Linked DNA regions of Homo sapiens. The protein of the gene in region 3 interacts with the protein of the main gene of each other region in a pairwise test. Each region holds a gene or a part of one and is shown on either strand. Other genes may lie near its edges.

Region 1 (7,055 bases), on a different chromosome or scaffold from region 3:
TGTTTTGTTGTTTTACCTCTCAGTTTGGCCAAGATAAAAAATGCAGTGTGAGTGAGGACGCAGGGAAATAGTGACTTTCATAGGCTATTTGTGAGCATGAGAAACCGGTGTGACCTTTAGGAGGGTAGTTTCTTAAGATCTACTAACATTTTAAATGAATACACACTTTGTCCCAGAAATCAAATGCTGAGGTGGGAGAATTTATCCTAACAGTTTACAGACACATGCATGTAAAATCCTCCTTACTCATTGTCACAGGACTGCTGTGTGTGGTTTAAAAAAATTAAATGAAGTCTGCATACAGCCTAAATGCCCATCAGCAGAGGAACTGATTAAAGAAAATAACAAGGTATAACCTTTAAGAGATATTCTGATGGAAAAAAAACAAGATGAAGTAAAATATATAAAATGCATTTTTATTATGTAAAATAAGAAATATTTGTATCAGCAAATTTACTTCTAGAAGGATTATCCTCAATAAATAAAGTAATTGCCATTGAGGTAGGGAGAAGGTGTCTTTCTCCTATTTTTAACTCTTCATTCACTGTTAACTTTACTGTTTGTTTGGTTTTGTATTTAGAGCGTGCTTGTTGGCCCACTGGGTATGCTCAGTTACTGGAAGATGTTTTGGCTGTGGCCTCAGACAGGCACTTGAGGCATAGATGTACATACAGGTCTGCCACCTGAAGAGGCAAACTGACTTGACTTGGCCCAACCTCTCACCTCTGTTGAGGGGACCTCTTCCTACTCACTGCAGATGGGTTCACTTGTTCCCACCACAAGCGCAGAATGCCTTGTACTTCACAACCCTTTGCTCCCCAGGGAGCTCTGCAAGTCCCCAGAAATACTTGCCCAACCACGGGCACCCTTGGAAGGGTCCAGCTGCTGACCACCAGCATCATGTGACTCCCAGTGCCAGTGACATCTGGAGGAATTGAGCAATGGCTGAGGTGGAATTTCATTTGGCACTTAATGCAATCCTCTGCTTCTGCCAGAGGCGGTGAATTCTATATAAAGCTGCCAAACCTGGCCGTCTTCTCACTGAGCCTTGACCCCTTCCATCCAAGGGCAAGGCAATGGATTGCTGTGCATGACTCACGCGCAGTAACTGTGGCATTGGGGCCTAGCCCAGCTGAGCTGAGCAGAGCAGGCCGGCCTGGCGGAAGTGGGTCCTCTCCGCTCTAACCTCTGGCTCTGATGAGCAGCTACATAAACTGAGACAGGATATAGACACATCCTGCCTGAGTTAGCAGCAAGAAATAGCCGCCCCCCACCCCCCCTGCAGTTCTCGCACAGCAGGGATCCTGCCATAAATCAATCCGAAGTCTAATGTGGAATGGCTTGCAAGCAAGGGCTGCACCGCTGTTTGTCTCCCAAGGCAAGTGTTGAAGGTCTGAAACCTGAGTCCTGGAGAACTGCTTGGGCTGCTGGGCTGGGCTGGGCACGGGGGCGGGGGTCAGGCAAGCCCATCCTCTTCAGACATGAGAATGCCTCTCAGCCTCACCTCCTCAGTGACTGAATTGGAATAATGACAGTGGCTCCTGTCCCTTTAACCCAGGACCTGCCGTATACACACACATAAACATATGCTCAAGTTACGTGCTCCGGGAACCACAGTCTCATGTGCAATTATATAAACATGCCCAGCACGGATCCAGCACTTAGGATGTGTCAGACTCCGTGCCGGGACATTTATACGCACTTCGTGCTGCTGGATGAGTTATCTCCTGTTATTATTCCTACTTTCCTACTTTGCAGATGAGGAAACTGGAGCTAAGAGAGGCTGCCTTGTTTATAGGCAGTGCAGATGATCCCAGTGCAGACTGAGGGGCCTCGCTCCCAAGCACCACTGATGCCTGCGCACTCCCAGGCTGACGCAAGCACAACCACAGGCACATGGAGTGCCGTGTACACACGTAGACCGAAGCAGCACTCCTCCACGCCAAGCTCCAAGCTCAGGCGGGGTGAGGGGTGAGGCCTCACAACCCCCTGGATTTCAAAGACTTATAAAAGAGTTGGTGTCTCCAATACCCATATCATTATCATATCAATAAGGTATCATTGTCACATGATAGGCTCAGGGTATCTCCTCTCTGACAGACTCTAAGAATCAGACCGCGGCAGGGTGGGGGTAAGAGGGATGTACATTACGTTTTTTGGTAAAATCAAATGGTAGTTTTTATTGCAAAAGTCCAACGGCAGAGGAAGAGGGCAGAGAGAGGCCCAGCAATGTTTCCAAGCATCTACAAAGACTTTCATCACAGATGATTTCCTCTCAGCAAGAAAACGTGATGGTTTAAAAGAGAAAACCAGCAGCGAGGAATTACAAATCCCCAAAGGATCCAGGCCGCAGGATTCCCTCGCATCTGTGTGCCTTTGCGGCGCCCAGCGGAGCGAGCAAGTCCCTGGGCAAGGCTGGAGTTGCCTGGAGTTCACCGGAGCCTGGCCGGTCGGACCCTGGCTGGGGAGCAGCACAGAAGCAACTTGTGATGTGAACTCTCACCTAACTGTTCTTTAGGGAGACAATTCTGGCCCCACACATTTCACATGCCCCGCACAAAGAAACAGAAAGCGGGCGACACGCCCTGGGAGGGCGGGCTGGCGGCTTCTCCAGCTCGGAGCGCGTGGAGGCTGCGCGTAGGGGTCCGGGACGCGGGACAGGGACTCCGCGCAGCCCAGGCGCCGGGGAACCGGGGCTGGAGTCGGGGATCTGAGCCCAGCGGACGCCTCCTCCGCCTGGAGGCCCGGCACGGACCGGGACACCAGGGCGTCCGTGGCCGTGGCTCGGCCCCTGGCTGCTGCGGGCCGCGGCCTCCAGTGGGTCCCCAGGACCCTTCCCCACGGCGGGTACTCACCGAGGCTGAGAGGCCACGCCGTGCTGTTGGGGCTTCTCGTCGACCACATTCCTGGGCGTCAGCCCGGGCAGAGACCGCGGGGACTGGCCAGGCCGGGCCAGGCCGGGCCGGGGGAGGGTCGCGCTCCCGGGCTCCTGACCCTCGGCGGCGAGAGGAAGCGGCACCTGGGTCACACTCCTCCCGCGCGGGCCGAGGGGAGGGGCTCTGGCCCGGAGATAGGCAGACTTCATTTATTTTTTTTCTGCAGACTTGGCTGGTGGGGTTTCCACCCCCTTTTTTTTTTTTAAACACACACCCGCCCACTTCTGAACTCTTCTTTGCTCCAACTTTCCTGCGCAAGAACCACGCTTTTCTAACCGTTTCTCTTTCCATCTGCCACTACCGGATACAGAGGTTGTGGTTGAGAATTCCCCCTGGAGTGCAGGGAAAACTCCCCAATGTGACATGATGGCCTGGCCCAGCACTGTCGGGGATGGTGACCAAATAGGGCAGACCTGTGTTGAAATCTTGGCTGGCTGCGCGGCCGCTGGATAGCTGGGCGGCCTCTCTCAGCTGCGGGGCATTTGTCCCTGGAGAGAGTCCCTGTCTTGTTGGCCTTTGGGGGCCCTGTACTCATGGATGGGCTGTTGAGCAAAGATCATTCCAAAACAGGAAGAATTGCTGGACAAGAGTCGTGATTTGTTCCCATTGCTTTTGTCTGAAGCTGCCAGACACAGTGCAGTTTGTGAATTCGCTCTACTTTTGCCATGAAAATCTCCACGTGGATTTCGATACATACCTTTGTTGGTTAAATGCAGTCAAATGGCACCACCTACAAAAAATGTATCATAGCATTATCTGCCCCTTCTGCCCAGAGACAAGGGCAGGGAACTTGAGGCCCTTGTTTTAAATCCCCACCCAGGGGAACACCCTGTGCTTCTCCTGTGTGATGTCTGAACCTTCCTGTGCTGCTTTTCATTGTTTACTTTATAGTTCCCCAAGCACTTTTGTGACGCCCACCTCTCCCCTACCTTCTGCCATTAAGGCCTATCCTGCACAATCCGGAGAGCCAGGCCAGCTGTCTGTACAATGTATGGGCGGTGCCTTTGGGACTGTCATCTGCATTGAATACAATGAGAGGCTGCGCCCTGGAGATTTGCAACACAGAGGCTTTGCTCACCTCTAGCCGGGCTGCACAAACTCCAGGCCTTCTTGACGCAGTGGGAAAGCACTCATGATTCACTTTAGTTAGATCATGAAGAACCCCCGATGCTGATAGATCTTTACTCCAACTGCCATGTGCAGCACAGCCATGTTGAATTGAAATAAACTACTCACAGAATGCCTTTGGCCTGGTGGGGAAGCCCTGAGTCTTGATTTCCTCATCTATAAAATGGAGGCAAGAACACCTGCATTCCGGGGTTTTACAGAGGCAGTGATTGTAGAATCACAGTGGGAACAGAAAAGGCATTTAATAAACAGCAATGAGTAATGATTAATTTATTTTTATTTATTTATTTATTTATTTTTCTGAGACGGAGTTTTTGCTCTTGTTGCCCAGGCTGGAGTCCAACGGCGTGATCTCGGCTCACCACAACCTCCGCCTCCTGGGTTCAAGCAATTCTCCTGCCTCAACCTCTCGAGTAGCTGGGATTACCAGCATGTGCCTCCACGCCTGGCTAATTTTGTATTTTTAGTAGAGACGGGGTTTCTCCATGTTGGTCAGGCTGGTCTCGAACTCCCGACCTCAGGTGATCCACCCACCTTGGCCTTCCAAAGTGCTGGGATTACAGGCGTGAGCCACTGCACCCGTGATTACTTTAACAGTTTAACTTTTTTTTTTGGTAATACATACACATACGTCTACGTGGAACAGTAGTCCCGCTCCTCTGTCCTGAGAGAAAATAACTTTAATTATCTGAAATGCAGCTGGAAAGTTGGAAAGAAGCAGAAAGTTCTGCCAGGTAACAACGGACAAGTCATTAGGTCATTGCAGCACACTTAGAGAAGTCACTTTTACAGACTCATTTAGAACCTACTGGCCTTAGACGTAATCATAAGAGATTTCCTTAATTTCTTAGGGTAAGACAGGTTGAAGGCATCAAAATGTTGCAGAGAATTCCTTACAGAAAATAAGCCAAAAATTAATAAACTAACGAACTAAACAGTGAAAATTGAAAGCCCCACAAACTGCAGAGGTCAGATACAAGAACGAAGTAGCATTTGTTACAGAACTAAAGCAATCTCAGCTCCAGCCATCACTGGAGGATGTGACAGTTCCTTGCGCTATTAAAGACCACAGGGCTTTGGAACTCAATCTGGGTTAGTTACTCTACTGCCTACTAGCTGCGTAACCTTCAGCATTTCACTTTCTTTCTCTGAGCCTCATTTTTCTCAGCCTGGAAATTGGAGCAATCTGCAAAGTTAGGCTGTTGTGAGTAATATATTCGATAATAATTAAAGAGGTAATTACAATGAGAGTACACTGGAGTTACTTAAAGATATTGGCCCCCTTCCTCCTCTAACACATACTTTGTTCATAGTAAGGACCCCAAGTCATTTGAAAAAGAAAGTAAATAGTGTGTCTTAGTGTGTAGCAAATTAGCTAACAGGGAAACATTTGACATATTTTAGAAAATTTAACTATGAAAGTGTCTAATGTTAAATAAATGACTCTTAAGAAGGGAAAATAATTATGTGAAAAATTTAATTATATGGTAACAGTCTGACATAAGTCAAGAAATGTATTATTAGTGTGTCTTCATGTGTTGGATATTTATTAATGAAGTTAAAAAAAAAACTCAGCTATATCTTGCAATAATAAACCAGTTCTTATCTTGTCTAGTTCCCATAAATACTCTTAAACGGAGTATTGCCAAGAGTCCATTGTAAAGATGAGAACCCAGAAGTTCAGCACAGTGACAAGAACTTGCTCTGCAGTGCAGCCGGGATGGACGGTTCTAGCTGTGTCTTCATTGACTGTCTGTGGCTGATACAAGCTGCAGAGCCCTCCAAGATGTGAGATGGTATGATCCAGTCCTGGAGATGAATTTTCTCTTCCTCTTCAGGGAAGAAACTGCTCATGGGAAACTGCCTTCCAAATCCTCAGTGCTAGTTCCTTATTGGGAGTGGAGTTGGCGGTCCCCTGCTGCTGTTGCTGTCTCCTGGGTGAGCCCTTACAGATGGTGGTAGGTAGATGTTGCTTGGGCCTTTAATGAAAGGTTTTGCCCCTCATCACAGTAACACATGCTCTTTGTGCAAAAAGAAAAAATAAAAAAGAAAAAGCCAAAAAGATACCTAAACCCTAAGAATTGCTTGCAATCTCCAGCACATTAAGGTTATTTACCTTTAGTCTTTTTTATGCATTTACGAATATTTGCTTTATACTCTTGAGATTTTACTGAATACGTGATTTCAAGTGCTGAGCTTTTACTACTAAACATTATGTCATGAGCATTTTCTCATGTAAAAGTAGAAAAGCTCTTTAACTCATTTTAATTACTAGGTTGTTTCATTTTCTTTGCTGGTTGAATAGTGCTGTGATAACCATATGAACATAAATATCTGGATTTCATAATTTTTTCCTTAGGGTATATTCTGACAAGCAGAATTACTCAATCAAAGGTTACAAATGCATTTAAAGCTTTTGATACATTCATAAGTTCTGGCTGTGACCTTTACTTTCTTCCCAATCAAGAGTACCAGTGTTTATCTCAGAGTCTCTTGCCAGAATTAAACAGCAAACTTAAAATCATAGTTAATTCCATAGAAAAGAAACATACATAGTTATTTGTGTCAGCATTTTCTTTGATTACCAGAGAGGCCGAATATGCTGTCAGTTGCTTATTTACAAATCACAGCTTCTTTTAGGTGAATATTTTGTTCACACTGTTTCCTCATTTGGAGGTGTGATGGTTAATACTGAGTGTCAACTTGATTGGATTGAAGGATACAAAGTATTAATCCTGGGTATGTCTATGAGAGTGTTGCCAAAAGAGATTAACATTTGGGTCAGTGGGCTGGGGAAGGCAGATCCACCCTTAATCTAGTGGGCACCATCTAACCAGCTTCCAGGGAATATAGAGCAGGCAGAAAAACATGAAAAGGAGGGATGGGTCTGGCCTCCCAGCCTACATCTTTCACCCGTGCTGGATGCTTTCTGCCCTGGAACATCAGACTCCAAGTTCTTCAGTTTTGGGATTTGGACTGGCTCTCCTTGCT
Region 2 (7,023 bases), on a different chromosome or scaffold from region 3:
CTCGTGAGGGACATTTTAATGGAGCACACTGGAACATGTGGAATGGGTTTAGACTGGATTATTCGCTTTGTGGCGGTCTTCTTACATACATCATGCCAGCTTCTTCGTGGGGAGAGGCAGGTGAGTGGTTTTGCCCTCAGTTGCTTATAGTCTAGTTGAAGAGATAAAGTGAACATAGAGAACTGAAAAGGAACTTGCTAAGAGGGTGTTTTCTTTCATTCTTTTTGTTGTTGTTGTTTTGTTTTGTTTGTTTACTTTTTGAGACAGGGTCTTACTCTGTCACCCAGGCTGGAGAGCGGTGGTGCAATCTCAGCTCACTGCTCAACTTCACCTCCCAGGCTCAAGAGGTTCTTGTGCCTCAGCTTCCCGAGTAGCTGGACTTACAGGTGCACACCATCATGCCTGGCTGATTTAGAGGGTGTTTGCTTTCTGCTGGGCACATCCAGGCATCGTGGGAAGTGCTGTTTAAATTGGGCCATAAAAGGGTGGGTAAGGTGAGGACAGGGGACCAAGTGGGTGGGATTCAGGGTGAAGCAGAGTCATGGGGGTGGGGACAGACACGCTGATGCACATGGGAGTAGTGGATCCTCATTTACACTCTGGAAGGGAATTGTGGAGAGGGAGGTATAGATGAGGGGATGGAAGGGAAGGGCACCGGCAAATATTGTTGATAGCGAGGGAAGGGCGGTATTGTGATCGGCTTTGACTGTCAGCCTAAGGAATTTGAATTTCATTCTAGAGATCCAGGGGAGGTGTGTAAAAGACAAGATCAGAACGTTAGTTCAGGAAGCTTAATCTTTTCTGCCCCCCCATCTGAGATGTACAAGAGGGTTAGAAAGCAGAGTTGGAGAAGCTGTTTGGGAGGGAGCACTTATTTGTTTTTTTGTTTTGTTTTGTTTTTTTGAGATGGAGTCTCGCTCTGTTACCCAGGCTGGAGTGCAGTGGCGCCATCCTGGCTCACTGCAACCTCCACCTCCCGGGTTCAAGTGATTCTCCTGCCTCAGCTTCCCAAGTAGCTAGGACTACAAGCACCTGCCACCATGCCTGGCTAATTTTTGTATTTTTAGTAGAGACGGGGTTTCCCTCTGTTGGCCAGGCTGGTGTCGAACTCCTGACCTCAGGTGATGCACCCACCGAGGCCTCCCAAAGTGCTGGGATTACAGGCGTGAGCCACTGCGCCCGGCAGGGAGGGGGTAAAGTGAGAGGCATAAGGGTCCCGGCCAGGTGTTAGCAGGGGGCTTCAGAGGTGAGGAGAGAGCAGGGCAGGCAGCTGCTAGGCCTGGGGGAGCGGGCTGCGGAGGACTGAGAATCTGAGGTTTTTCTCTTGGCCGCCTGGGGGAAATCCAGGGGGAAAAGGAGAATGAGGAAGGAAGATGCGTTTGGCCTCAGACGTGTTGAAGGTATTAAGAGGCCAACAGGAAATGAGGCCATGGGCTAGAGAGAAGAGCCCTGATTCATTCCCCAAATGCCTCCCGAAATTCTGTGCGCCGAGGCTTGTGTTTGGCACTTGGAGTACAAAGATGAATTCAGCAGTCTCTTTGGTGTTTGCCTTATCAGCTAAGCTGAGAACAAGATTGATTAGTACACACTCCTCAGTGTTCATGCCTGACCTACTTTTCCTTATTTAGTAAGTTATTTTTAATAAATGTAGTAAGCTCTGGCAATCTAGGCACCCAAAACAAAAGCTGGGATCATGAAACAAAAGTATATATCTAATCTTTTTTTTTTAATTTTAAAAAACTTTAAAAAGTTTTCTACTTTATCAGGTCCCCTTAGAACATCTAATCATTTCATTTGAACTTGTTTTCTGTTCTTACCCTGAGGTAATCATTATCTCCTTTCTTTCATTTTTTTCTTAGTTTTATCTTACATGTGTATTTCTTTGTTTCTCTGTCTCTTTTTTTTTTTTCTTTGAGGCAGAGTTTCACTCTTATTGCCTAGGCTGGAGTGCAATGGCACGATCTCGGCTCACTGCAACCTCCACCTCCCGGGTTCAAGCTACTCCCGATTCTCCTGCCTCAGACTCCGGAGTAGCTAGGATTACAGGCATGCGCCACCATGCCCGGCTAATTTTGTATTTTTAGTAGAGACGGAGTTTCTCCATGTTAGTCAGACTGGTCTCAAACTCCTGACCTCAGGTGATCCACCTGCCTCGGCCTCCCAAAGTGCTGGGATTACAGGTGTGAGGCACCGCGCCTGGCCTATTTCTTTCTTTTTTTAGAGACAGTGTCTCACCTTGTAACCCAGGCAGCTGGAGTGCAGTGGCATAATCACGGATCACTGCCGCCCCAAATTCCTGGGTTCAATGGATCCATCCCCTTCAGCCTCCTGAATAGCTGGGACTACAGGCACAGGCTACCATGCTTAGCTAATTTTTAAAGTTTGTGCAGAGGCAGCTTCACTGTGTTGCCCAGGCTGGTCTTGAACTCCTGGGCTCAAGCAATTCACCCGCCTTGGCCTCCCAAAGTGCTGGGATGATAGACATGAGCCACCATGCTCGGCAGTGTTCATCTTTCGTAGCTATTGCTAGACCATTTCCTGAATGTAGTGCTTATACCAGTATCCACTTTACCAGCAGTGTCCTGTGTCTTGCAGCTCCACAGTCTTACCAACATTTGCTGTTGGCCAAGTGAATGGGTAGAAAATGGAATCTTTGGGAACTTGGTTTCTAGGTCCCTGAGCCCTGCTGCTGAATATCTCCTCTTATGTTTATTGGCATATGTGTTTCCTGTGAAATATTCATGTCTTTTGCCAGTTTTTCATTAGGGTTCTTGGTGCTTTATTTTTTGTTGATCTATAGGGCTCTTTATATATTGCTGATTTTAATCCTTCGTGTCTATTGCAAATATCTTCTCCCAGCTTTTAACCTATTATTCCTCTTTCTTTAAGGTGTCTTCTGTTGATCAGCCATTCTTCATTTTAACATAGCGAAATGTATTTTTTCCCTAGTACTCAGTTTTCTGGGTCTGGTTTGAAGTCTTTTCCTGAACATAACCCTTGCCTTTAAGGAGCGTATGCATTCTCCAGTGGAGGAGACAGATAATGGCACTGAGACGTCATGTGGGCATTGATTGTTAGAAGTGGCCACTTCTGCCTGTGGAGCGGGAGCGAACTTAGGAAAGATCTCACAGGGCAGAGTCTTGAGCTAGGAATTAAGAGATGAGTAAGTGGACAAGTGCGATGGGCATTCTCAGTGGGGGACGAAGGGCATGAAACATCCTGACCTGCCCTGGGCACTGCCAGGAGGTCCAGATGGCAGGAGCTGACGGTTTGAGGGGCTCGGGCAGGGCATCCCGAGGACAGCTTTGGGTGATCTGTATGCAAGGGAATATTGAAGCCATGGGAACAGATCCTGAGGATCCGGGGGGAATGGAGAGAGGAGGGGAGGAGGGGAGAGGGAGGCCAGGGCCTGATTCCCGGATGCAGAGAATGTTATCAACGCCCGGTGTGGCTCTGGGGAGCACCTGGGGCTTCCCAGGGGCGGGTGCTGTTGGCATGCTGCCTGCTGTGCTGTTGGATGCTGTATTTCACCCTTAGGTGTTGGGCAAAGGCTGACATGTCTGCAGAGGGCAGGGCGTGTTGTTGGCAAAGCTAGCCAGAGGCAGAGCACTCTCTCACTTTTTGATAGAGACATGAGTTCAGAGAAGTATTGCTCAACTGTAGGAGTGTGAAAGTACAGTAATAGATGTGAGGGAGGCCACAGGGCAGAGGTCTGCAAACGATGGACCCTCAGCCAAATCTGGCCCACTGCCATTTTTTTTTTTTTTTTTTTTTTTTTTTTGAGATGGAGTCTCACTCTGTTGCCAGGCTGGAGTGCAATGGCACGATCTCAGCTCACTGCAGCCTCCGCCTCCCAGGTTCAAGAAATTCTCCTGCCTCAGCCTCCTGAGTAGCTGGGATTACAGGCACCAGCCACCATGCCTGGCTAATTTTTGTATTTTTAGTAGAGACAAGGTTTCACCATGTTGGCCAGGCTGGTCTCGAACTCCTGACCTCAGGTGATCCACCCCCGCTTGGCCTCCCAAAGTGCTGGGATTATAGGCGTGAGCCACCACGCCCAGCATTTTTTTTTTTTTTTTTTTTTTGAGGCAGGGTCTAACTCTGTTGCCCAGGCTGGAGTACAGTGGCACAGTCTCGGCTCACTGCAGCCTCCGCCTCCTGGGTTCAAGTGATTCTCCTGCCCCAGCCTCCCAAGTAGCTGGGACTACAGGTGCACGCCACTACGCCTGGCTCATCTTTGTATTTTTTTGGTAGATACGGGGTTTCACTGTATTGGCCAGGCTGGTCTCAAACTCCTGGCCTCAAATGATCCACCCACCTCAGCCTCCCGAAGTGCTGGGATTACAGGCGTGAGCTACCGCATTCAGCCCCACTGCCTGATTTTGTTCATAAAGTTATATTGGTATGCAACCCCTCCTGTTTACACATTGTTTATGGTTGTTCTTGTGGTCTAGTGGCAGAGTCACTGCAAAGACTTTTTCTGTCCTTTACAGGAAAAGCATGCTGGCCCTAGCCATAGGGAGTCATGGTAGCTGTGGCCACCCAGAGAGGACGTTCCAGCCACCATTGCAGTTTAGCTGGTGTTGCTAGGTAGATCATGGATCTAGGTCCAGCCTGCAAATATTGCCATCTTTCCTGATTTTCAAGGGAAGCTTGAAATCTAGATTTTTTTTTTTTTTTTTTTTACTGTGAATATTCCTTTTTTTTTTTTTTTTGAGACGGATTCTCATTCTGTCGCCCAAGCTGGAGTGCAGTGGCATAATCTTGGCTCACTGCAACCTCCACTTCTTAGGTTCAAGCAATTCTCCTGCCTCAGCCTCCCGAGTAACTGGGACTACAGGCGCTCGCCACCACACTTGGCTAATTTTTTGTATTTTTTAGTAGAGACAGGGTTTCACTGCATTAGCCAGGATGGTCTCGCTCTCCTGACCTCATGATCTGCCTGCCTCGGCCTCCCAAAGTGCTGGGATTACAGGTGTGAGCCACTGAGCCCGGCCAAATATTCCAATTTTTAAACATCAGCTCAGTTTTTAAAAGCCAAACCTTAGTAACCCAAGCAAAACACATCTACAGGCCAGTTTGTCCGTCGTCAGTCTGTCTTGGTGGGAAAGACAGGAACTCTGGAAACAGATTTGGGTTTTCTCAGTCCCTGGATATCCTTGGGCAAGCTGCATGTCTTCTGGTGACTCACTTTTCTCAGTTGTGGTATGGAAATATCCCGCTTCCCCAGTTGTGAGGACCAACGAGAATTACTAGTCAGGTGGAGGGGCTTAGCACGGTGCCTGGTGCCTGGTAAACCTTTACCTGGTAGCCATTGCTGTTATTCATTTATTTATTTATTTTACACAATAATTTACTTATTGAGAGCCTTCTCTCCCCGCCCTTGCAGTCTCTAGGTCACTTTTTCCACTTGTAGATTTTGTGCACAAGCCCCAGAAAGATGGCTGGGGGCAGGGGCTCTGCGTACTATTCGATGAGACCCATAACGTGGCTGTAACTGTCTTTCTCATACTGCAAGAACACGGCTGGCAGATCCAGCTCCTCGTATAGTGCCTTCACCCGGGCCACCTTCTCGGCCTCCTTCTGCCTGTAATTTTCCTTCAGGATCTGGTACTGTTCTGGAGTGGCCTGTAGCAGACACTGAACCACCAGCCAGCTGCATTTGTTGTCCTGGAAGTCATTGCCAACTCTGCCAGTCACACTGGGGTCCCCAGAGAAGTCAAGGTAATCATCCTGAATCTGAAAGAACTCTTGAATCTCCAGCAGGATCTTCTTGGCACTGGTGTGCTCCTTCTTGTCATCCATTCTTGACATGTACATGGCTGCAGCTACAGGAAGGTAGAAGGAGTAGAAAGCTGTCTTGTACTTGACAACAGATTTGTGCCTTTTTTCGGTGCATCTGCGAAGATCCACATTGCCCTGGGGGGTTGTGATGAGGTCGAGGGTCTGCCCAATCTCAGTCTGATAAGAATTCTGCTGGAAGAGCTCCATCAGGTTCAGGTAATAGGGCTGCTCCCGGCAATACAGCTTCAGCAGGCAGTAGATACATGCTTCCAGAAGGATAGCATCATTGATGGCATCCAAACCCATGCCCAGCTTCTGATACCAGGAGATCTGTCCCTGGCAGGTAAGGGATGAATCCATAATGTCATCTGCCACCAGGAAGAAAGCTTGCAGCAGTTGCGCATACCAGCCCACAGTCGGTGCCCACTGGAGACTATCAGCATCCAGTTTCCTCGGCTCCACCAGCTCCCGGAACGCTACTAGCACCATCAAACCTCGGTGATACTTGCCTCCAATGGCATTGTACTCCAGGACCTCCTTGAGCCGGGCAGTAGCATCTCCTGTCTCTGGGTGCCCCATCTCATCCTCAGTCAGCACCCTAACGATCTGGGAGTAGTGCTGAACGAAATCCTGCTTTGCTTGGGCATAAATATCTGATTTCTGGTTTCCATTCGTTCTTTTTTTTTTTTTTTTTTTTTTTGAGACGGAGTCTTGCTCTGTCGCCCAGGCTGGAGTGCAGTGGCGCGATCTTGGCTCACTGCAAACTCCACTTCCTGGGTTCACGCCATTCTCCTGCCTCAGCCTCCCTAGTAGCCGGGACTACAGGCACCCGCCACCGCGCCCGGCTAATTTTTTGTATTTTTAGTAGAGACAGGGTTTCACCATGTTAGCCACGATGGTCTCGATCTCCTGACCTCGTGATCCGCCCGCCTTGGCCTCCCAAAGTGCTGGGATTACAGGTGTGAGCCACCGCGCCCAGCCTGGTTTCCATTCATTCTGAGGGAGGAGCAAAGGGCTGTGTTCCTGGATGCGGGTTCCTGCTTGGCTGTTATTTATTTTTTTTTAAAGAGACAGGGTCTCGCTCTGTTGCCCAGGTTGGAGTGTAGTGGCACGATCATAGCTCACTGCAACTTTGAACCCCTGGGCTCAAAGCAGTCCTTCTGCCTCAGCCAGTCAAAGTGCTGGGATCACAAGGTGTGAGCCACTGCACCAGGCCTGCTATTACTGTTACCATTACAC
Region 3 (6,958 bases):
CCTCCTCTCTCCCCCAGCCAGTGAGGGGGTCTGAGGGCAAGAGGGAAAAGGCTGAAAGTTGGCAAATGCCCACATCTCTTCTACTCATTTCTACTTTTCTGGAAGCATTTACTCATTCTTCTTATTTTATAAAGGAAACTGCATAACCTGGACCCTCGTTGCCTCTGGGTCTTCCCTAGTGTCAGAGGCAGGAGGAGGTTGGTTGGGGTAATTCTATCTTCTTGAGTCAGATGCCTTCGCCAGGCTCCTAGGAGAAAGAGCAGTAGTCCCTCCCCAACCTTGCAAATAGCTAAGGAATCCCGTACCTCTTGCCCCTTACCTGCAGCCTGGGGAGTTCCACATAGGAACAGGAGGAGGAATAAGACTGCCATGGGGAGAGCCTGCCAAGTTCTCTTGCTCCAAGACCTGGTGTCCCCAGGGAGGAAGCAGAGTCCAGATAAAGGCCCACACTCGCTGGTCTGGAGTGACAAGGGGCTCTGGAGGGGATGGGAATGCTGGGGCGATAAAGCCCAGCAGCATGTCTACTAGGGATAAAGTGACCACCACTTTTCTATCCTGGAGAGAAAAGGACCCAGCCCAGGCCACTCTGAAGATGACCTTTTTGCTCTTCTGATTCCACATCAGCTAAGGGGCTCAAATAAAGACTTTCCATGCAAAAAACCATGCAGAGAAGTGGTCCTGCCTGTCTAGCTCTTGTCAGTCTGGAAGTACATTCTGAGGTCTCTTTCACTCCTAAGAAAGGTCAGCCATGAGTTGGGTGGATCACTTGAGGTCAGGAGTTCGAGACCAGCGTGGCCAACATGGCGAAACCCTGTCTCTACAAAAAATACAAAAATTAGCCAGGCGTGGTGACATGTGCCTGTAATCCCAGCTACTTAGGAAGCTGAGAGGCACCAGAATCGCTTGAACCCGGGAGGTGGAGGTTGCAGTGAGCCGAGATCGTGCTACTGCACTCCAGCCTGGGAGACAGAGCGAGACTTCATCTCAAAAAAAAAAAAAAAAAAAAAAAAAAAGAAAAAGAAAAGAAAAGAAAAGAAATGTCAGCTATGAGTGAAGAAACTGAGTTTGAGTTTTTATGTTGGTCCTCCACAGAACCCAGCACAAGACTGTGTATCGAGTCAGTGTCCCGTAAATGATTTGGAATGACTTTCCCTGTGGTTGTCTGGCATACCCCGGACCTCTCCTGAAACCCTAATAAGTGTATTAAATTATTACTCAGGGACAAGGCTAACGGGCTGATTCATCCTTCTGAACGGCAAAAACTCCTAAGGCAGATCTTCATGCAGTTATTACAGTTTTAATGTGTAATTTATTTATTTTTAAAATTATTTTGATGAAATATTCCATACATACCAAAAACTATATGAAGTACAACTATATAATGGATAAATGCTTAACAGAGTAGAAGACTGGACAGCAATGAGAATGAACAAACCTAGTGATTTGCAACAAAGTTGAATCTCACAATATAATGAGAGTAAAAGAAGCCTGGCCAGGCATGGTGGCTCATGTCTACAATCCTAACACTTTTGGAGGCCAAGGTGGGAGGGTTGATTGAAGCCAGAAGTTTGAGGTTGGGCAACAGAGCAAGACCCCAACTCTGAAAATAAAGGCCAGACGCCGTGGCTCACGCCTGTAATCCCAGCACTTTGGGAGGCTGAGGCAGGCGGATCACGAGGTCAAGAGATCGAGACTATCCTGGCCAACATGGTGAAACCCTGTCTCTACTAAAAATACAAAAATTAGCTGAGTGTGGTGGTGGATGCCTGTAGTCCCAGCTACTCAGGAGGCTGAGGCAGGAGAATCGCTTGAACTCAGGAGGCAGAGGCTGCGGTGAGCAGAGATCATGCCACTATACTCCAGCCTGGTGACAGAGCGAGACTCCGTCTCAAAAAAATAAATAAATAATAAATAAATAAATAAATAAATAAATAGAATATTCCAGGCCGGACTCGGTTGCTCATGCCTGTAATCCCACCACTTTGGGAGGATGAGACAGGCGGATCACCTGAGGTCAGGAGTTCAAGACCAGCCTGACCAACATGGAGAAACCCCATCTCTACTAAAAATAAAAAAATTAGCAGGGCATGGTGGTACATGCCTGTAATCTCAGCTACTTGGGAGGCTGAGGCAGGAGAATCGCTTGAACCCCAGAGGCAGAGGTTGTGGTGAGCCGAGATCGGGCCATTGCACTCCAGCCTGGGCAATAAGAGCGAAACTCGGTCTCGAAAAAAAAAAAAGAAAAAGAAATAGAATATTCCAGGCCAGGCACAGTGGCTCATGCCTGTAATCCCAGCACTCTGTGAGGCCAAAGCAGGAGGTTCACTTGAGCCCAGGAGTTCGAGACCAGCCTGGGCAACATGGTGAGACCTTGTAAAATTAGCCGAGTATGGTGGTGTGGGCCTATAGTCCCAGCTACTCAGGAGGTTGAGGCAGAAAGATGGTTGAGCCCAGCAGGTGGAGGATCAGGGCAGTGAGCCGTGATTGTGCCACTGTGCTCCAGCCTGGGTGAAAGAGCTAGACCCTGTCTCAAAAAAAAAAAAAAAAAAAAACAGAAAAAAAGAATATTCCGTTTCAGTCAGAGATCCTCTATGCTGTGTAACCACAATTCTGAATTTTCTCTTTCTTCTCCACTTGCTTTATCATTAAATTTTATGTGTTTTTGAATCTAATATACTAGTATCACGTATACATTCTTCTGTGGCTTTCTATTTTCACTCAGCATCATGGTTTTAAGATCCAGTTCATGCATAACAGTAATGATTCATTTATTTTCTTTTTACAAATATTCCGCATATCTTACTGTGCTGAATTTTCGTATCCAGGACCATGGTGTAGCTTTCCATTTATTGAAAAGCTTTTCGTTTACCTCTTTCTTTTTTTATTTTTTCAATTATTATTGTTATTATTTTGAGGCAGGGTCTGGCTCTGTCACCCAGGCTGGAGTGCATGGAGCGATCTCAAACTCCCGGGCTCAAGCGACCCTCCCACCTTGGCCTCCCAAGTAGCTGGGACTACAGGTGGGCACCACCACACCCTGCTAGGTCTTTTTTTTTTCCCCCTTGGTATTTTGTGTAGAGATGGGGTCTCACTATGTTGCCTGGGCTGGCTTGGAACTCCAGGGCGCAAGCAATCCTCTCTCAGCCACCCCAAGTGTTGGAATTACAGGCATGAGCCATGGCCTGGAACTCCTGGACGCAAGCAATCATCCCTCGGCCACCCAAAGTGTTGGAATTACAGGCGTGAGCCACCGCGCTGGGCCAGTTTACCTTTATTTATTTATTTAGAGACAGAGTCTTGCTCTGTCACCAAGGCTGAAGTGCAGTGGGAAGATCTCGGCTCACTGCAACCTCTGCCTCCCGCGTTCAAGCGATTCTCGCGTCTCGGCCTCCCGAGTAGCTGGGATTACAGGCGCGCACCACCCATGCCAGGCTAATTTTTGTATTTTTAGTAGAGATGGGGTTTCACCATGTTGGCCAGGCTGGTCTCGAACTCCTGGCCTCAAGTGATCCCCCCGCCTCGGCCTCCCAAAGTGCTAGGACTACAGGCGTGAGCCACTGCGCCGGGCCGGGCCAGTTTGCCTTTTCAATAACTTTTTATAGTTTTCTTCATAAAACCTTGCATTTCTTGTACTAGATACATTCCTAGACACCTTATGTTTTCGGTTACTCTTATCAAGTACTCCTAATCTCACCCCTCGTTTCCGCTGTCGCTCTAGAGTCTGCCAATAATGAGACAGAAAAAAATTATTGAACCATGCCCGGTAATTTTCTGATTCTCCGCGTTCTAGTGGTCTTCCACTAGTTTCGGACCACTGCTGTACCCGTAGCTCCAACTGCGCGAAACTCTTCTCAGGAAGCACTGAAAATGTCGCAACTCGCCCGGAGGCGGAGCCGGTACGGGCTGACGTCAAGGGCACACAACACCTCAGAGGCAGGGAGGGCGGGGCCGGCAGGGGGACCTGCTGCTGGAAGAGCAGCGGCCCGAGCCGGGGCCATGGCGAAGCTGCTGAGCTGCGTCCTAGGCCCCCGGCTCTACAAAATCTACCGGGAGAGGGACTCTGAAAGGGCCCCGGCCAGCGTCCCTGAGACGCCAACGGCAGTCACTGCCCCCCATTCCAGCTCCTGGGTGAGTCGAGTTCCTCCCCACCGAAGAACGTGGTACAGTCCAAACCCTTTACGGCCTTTTGCTCCCCAGAAGTGCCCATAATGGGAAATAAGGGGAGCCTGCTTGTCAAGCCAGTTATCCGCAAAATCTGCGCTCTGTGTGCTTCCTGAGTTAAAGTCACGCCTACGGACTGGCCGCCTCCTTTCTTTTTCGCTCTTTACCGCTTTCTCATTCCGACTGCCACTCTTTGTTCTTTCCTCTCCGCGTCCCCCCGACCCTGTGTGTCGTGGTTCGTGCCGGTCCCAGTTGAGTCTTGAGTCCCGGGAAGAGACCCTGCGCGGACTGGGGAGCCGTTGAATTTTGCTGTCAGACTCCCAGTTTCCTCTTCTTCAGTGCCTCTTCATGCCTCCCCCGGCTCTGTTTTTATCTTCCCTTTACCCTCGCCTTGAATTTCAGAATGACTTTTACAGATCCTGTATCCGTCGGTCCTCCCCTCAACCCCCGCCCAACCTAGCCTGGAGACCCGAGTCATTGTATTCTGGAGAGCTGGCGGGTGGTGGTAGGCTGTTCTAAATATTCTCTTCCTTTTTATCAGTTGTCTCATTGTGTTACTGTCTCCTACAAACTGCCCGCTCCTACCCACATTCTCTTCTTAGTCAACTACTCTTATTTCTGATGCTTTTCTTTCCTTCTTAGATTGTCTAGGTGTCTTTTCTTTCTTCTCAAACTAACCCTTCTCCCCACATGCACGCGCCTGCAATCCATTTGAAACTAGGCTGTGGAAAAGGAGCAAAAATCGTCCAATGCTGCTTTCACTTTTGCTTCCAAATCCAGCTCCCTGTGTTTGTTCCCATGGTCAGGGGTGGGAAATTAGGTTCAGAGTGAGGGTGAGGAAGAGGAGTTTCTGTGGGGGCCAGGGATGTTTCAAGAGAGATAGTCAACGAGACTAGAACCAGAGGACACACAGCAGGGCTTCTGAAAGGGAAGGGAAAGGACCTGCCAGTGGGCAGGGTCCTTAAGGAGGCCATCTGTTTTGGCAGGATACGTACTATCAGCCCCGTGCCCTGGAGAAACATGCTGACAGCATCCTGGCACTGGTATGTCTACCCTGGCATCTGGGACTCTGCATCTTTCAGACCCACCTGTCCTCTTGAACTTAGCCCTCCCTAACTTGGGAGCAACAGTGCCCTGGGGTTGGGGGATGCCCTGGGCTCTGCAGCAGACCTCTCCAACACAGACACACAGGCACACTCTAAATGTGCATACTTGGCACTCCCCTTTGGTATGTAGCACTGCTTTCTCTGGGGGCAACCTGAGCCGTAAGGAAAACATGTTTACTCTTGGGACCATCTGCAGGTGCTAAGTCCTGCAGTTCCCCAGTGACCTGTCCTCCCTGGCAACTAACCTCTTTGGCTGCAGGGACAGCTGTTCTTTCTGGCACAGTTCCTGTGGTGACGTTTGCGCATCTCTTGGGGACCAGGCCAGGGGCTGTCCTGAGCAGGGCCAATTGAAAAGGCTTGATTAACTTGAGTAGACAGAGAGACTGCCTTTAAATGTGATGGAATTATGTCTGGAGATGGAAGACATAATTCTTCCATAATTCCAGAGGAAGAAAATAGAGCCTGTACCAAATTTTCCCAGCCTCCATTACATTGACACACTACTTTTCAACAAATACTGAGCACCTACTGTATTCATGGTGTCATACACCAAATATGATATGATATCCCTCAGGTTGTCCATCTTGCTCAGAGTGTATAGTATATGCCTGGAATGGCAGGTGTGTGTGTGTGTGTGTATTGATTGCCTGTCCCTGTCTCTCTGCTGCAGGCTTCAGTATTCTGGTCCATCTCTTATTACTCCTCTCCCTTCGCCTTCTTCTACTTGTACAGGAAAGGTCAGTGTGGTTTCAAAGGTGGTGGGGTAGCAAATGGGCAGGTTGTTGGCAGATGAGCCAGCTCCCTAAAGAGGAGAGGGGACCTGTGAAGATGGCTTGGCTTCCCTCTTCCATCAGGCATCTTCTTCCTCTTAGGGTATGGCTGTTCCAAACAGGGAGTGTGGGGTGGAGGTTGGGGCTGAACTGGGAAGAGGAGCTGAGGGACATTGCGGAGAGGGTCTCACATTGTCCCTCTCCCTTCCCAGGTTACTTGAGTTTGTCCAAAGTGGTGCCGTTTTCTCACTATGCTGGGACATTGCTGCTACTTCTGGCAGGTGTGGCCTGCCTCCGAGGTAGGTGGAGAGGAAACCTGGTTTGAATCTTATCTGTCACTGTCACTGGTTAAAAATTAAGTACCTTGTGCAAATACATTTTAGTGATGGGCCTCCGAGAGGGAATCATTGAGAATGGTTTAAGGCATGATCTTTTCCTTAAAAGACTTGGGTTATAAATATGAAAAAATAACTGAAAAGTAACAAAAAGGTTTGCTTTTTTTTTTTTAAGAGATAGGGTCTCACCATGTTGTCCAGGCTGGTCTCAAACTCCTGAACTCAAAGTGATCCTCCCACCTCAGCCTCCCGAAGTACTGGGATTATAGATGTGAGCCACTATGCCTGGCTGCTTTTATCTAGAAAAGATGCATATACCCTACAACAATTCTATATATGTATACATACTAGGAAAACTCCTGCACATGTATAAACAATATAGATGTACAAGAATACAGCATACAACATTGTTTGTAATAATCCTAAGCTGGAAACAACTCCAGTGGCTACAAATAGTAGGATGGATAAAATATGTTCTGTGTGGCCGGGTGTGGTGGCTCATGCCTGTAATCCCAGCACTTTGGGAGGCAGAGGCCAGTGGATCACGAGGTCAGGAATTTGAGACCAGCCTGACCAACATGGTAAA

The links. The genes of interacting proteins can lie anywhere in the genome.
Region 1: the proteins of ABHD16A (region 3) and GYPC interact in binary tests that used the Homo sapiens proteins (3 or more experiments, as listed by UniProt).
Region 2: the proteins of ABHD16A (region 3) and DTX2 interact in binary tests that used the Homo sapiens proteins (3 or more experiments, as listed by UniProt).

What each region holds. Positions count from the first base shown.
Region 1 is NC_000002.12:126,652,113-126,659,167, reverse strand, and holds the start of GYPC (glycophorin-C), read right to left. Parts: upstream 3,011-7,055; 5' UTR 2,905-3,010; coding exon 2,856-2,904; intron 1-2,855. UniProt on the Homo sapiens protein: This protein is a minor sialoglycoprotein in human erythrocyte membranes. The blood group Gerbich antigens and receptors for Plasmodium falciparum merozoites are most likely located within the extracellular domain.
Region 2 is NC_000007.14:76,464,696-76,471,718, forward strand, and holds part of DTX2 (probable E3 ubiquitin-protein ligase DTX2), read left to right. Parts: intron 1-5,324; exon of another isoform or gene 5,325-7,023. UniProt on the Homo sapiens protein: Regulator of Notch signaling, a signaling pathway involved in cell-cell communications that regulates a broad spectrum of cell-fate determinations.
Region 3 is NC_000006.12:31,700,320-31,707,277, reverse strand, and holds the start of ABHD16A (phosphatidylserine lipase ABHD16A), read left to right. Parts: upstream 1-3,953; 5' UTR 3,954-3,996; coding exon 3,997-4,128; intron 4,129-4,319; exon of another isoform or gene 4,320-4,509; coding exon of another isoform or gene 4,510-4,666; intron 4,667-5,147; coding exon 5,148-5,204; intron 5,205-5,937; coding exon 5,938-6,004; intron 6,005-6,186; exon of another isoform or gene 6,187-6,249; coding exon 6,250-6,336; intron 6,337-6,958. Other genes in the region: LY6G6F (lymphocyte antigen 6 complex locus protein G6f precursor), read right to left, coding at 320-371; LY6G6F-LY6G6D protein precursor, read right to left, coding at 320-371. UniProt on the Homo sapiens protein: Phosphatidylserine (PS) lipase that mediates the hydrolysis of phosphatidylserine to generate lysophosphatidylserine (LPS). LPS constitutes a class of signaling lipids that regulates immunological and neurological processes.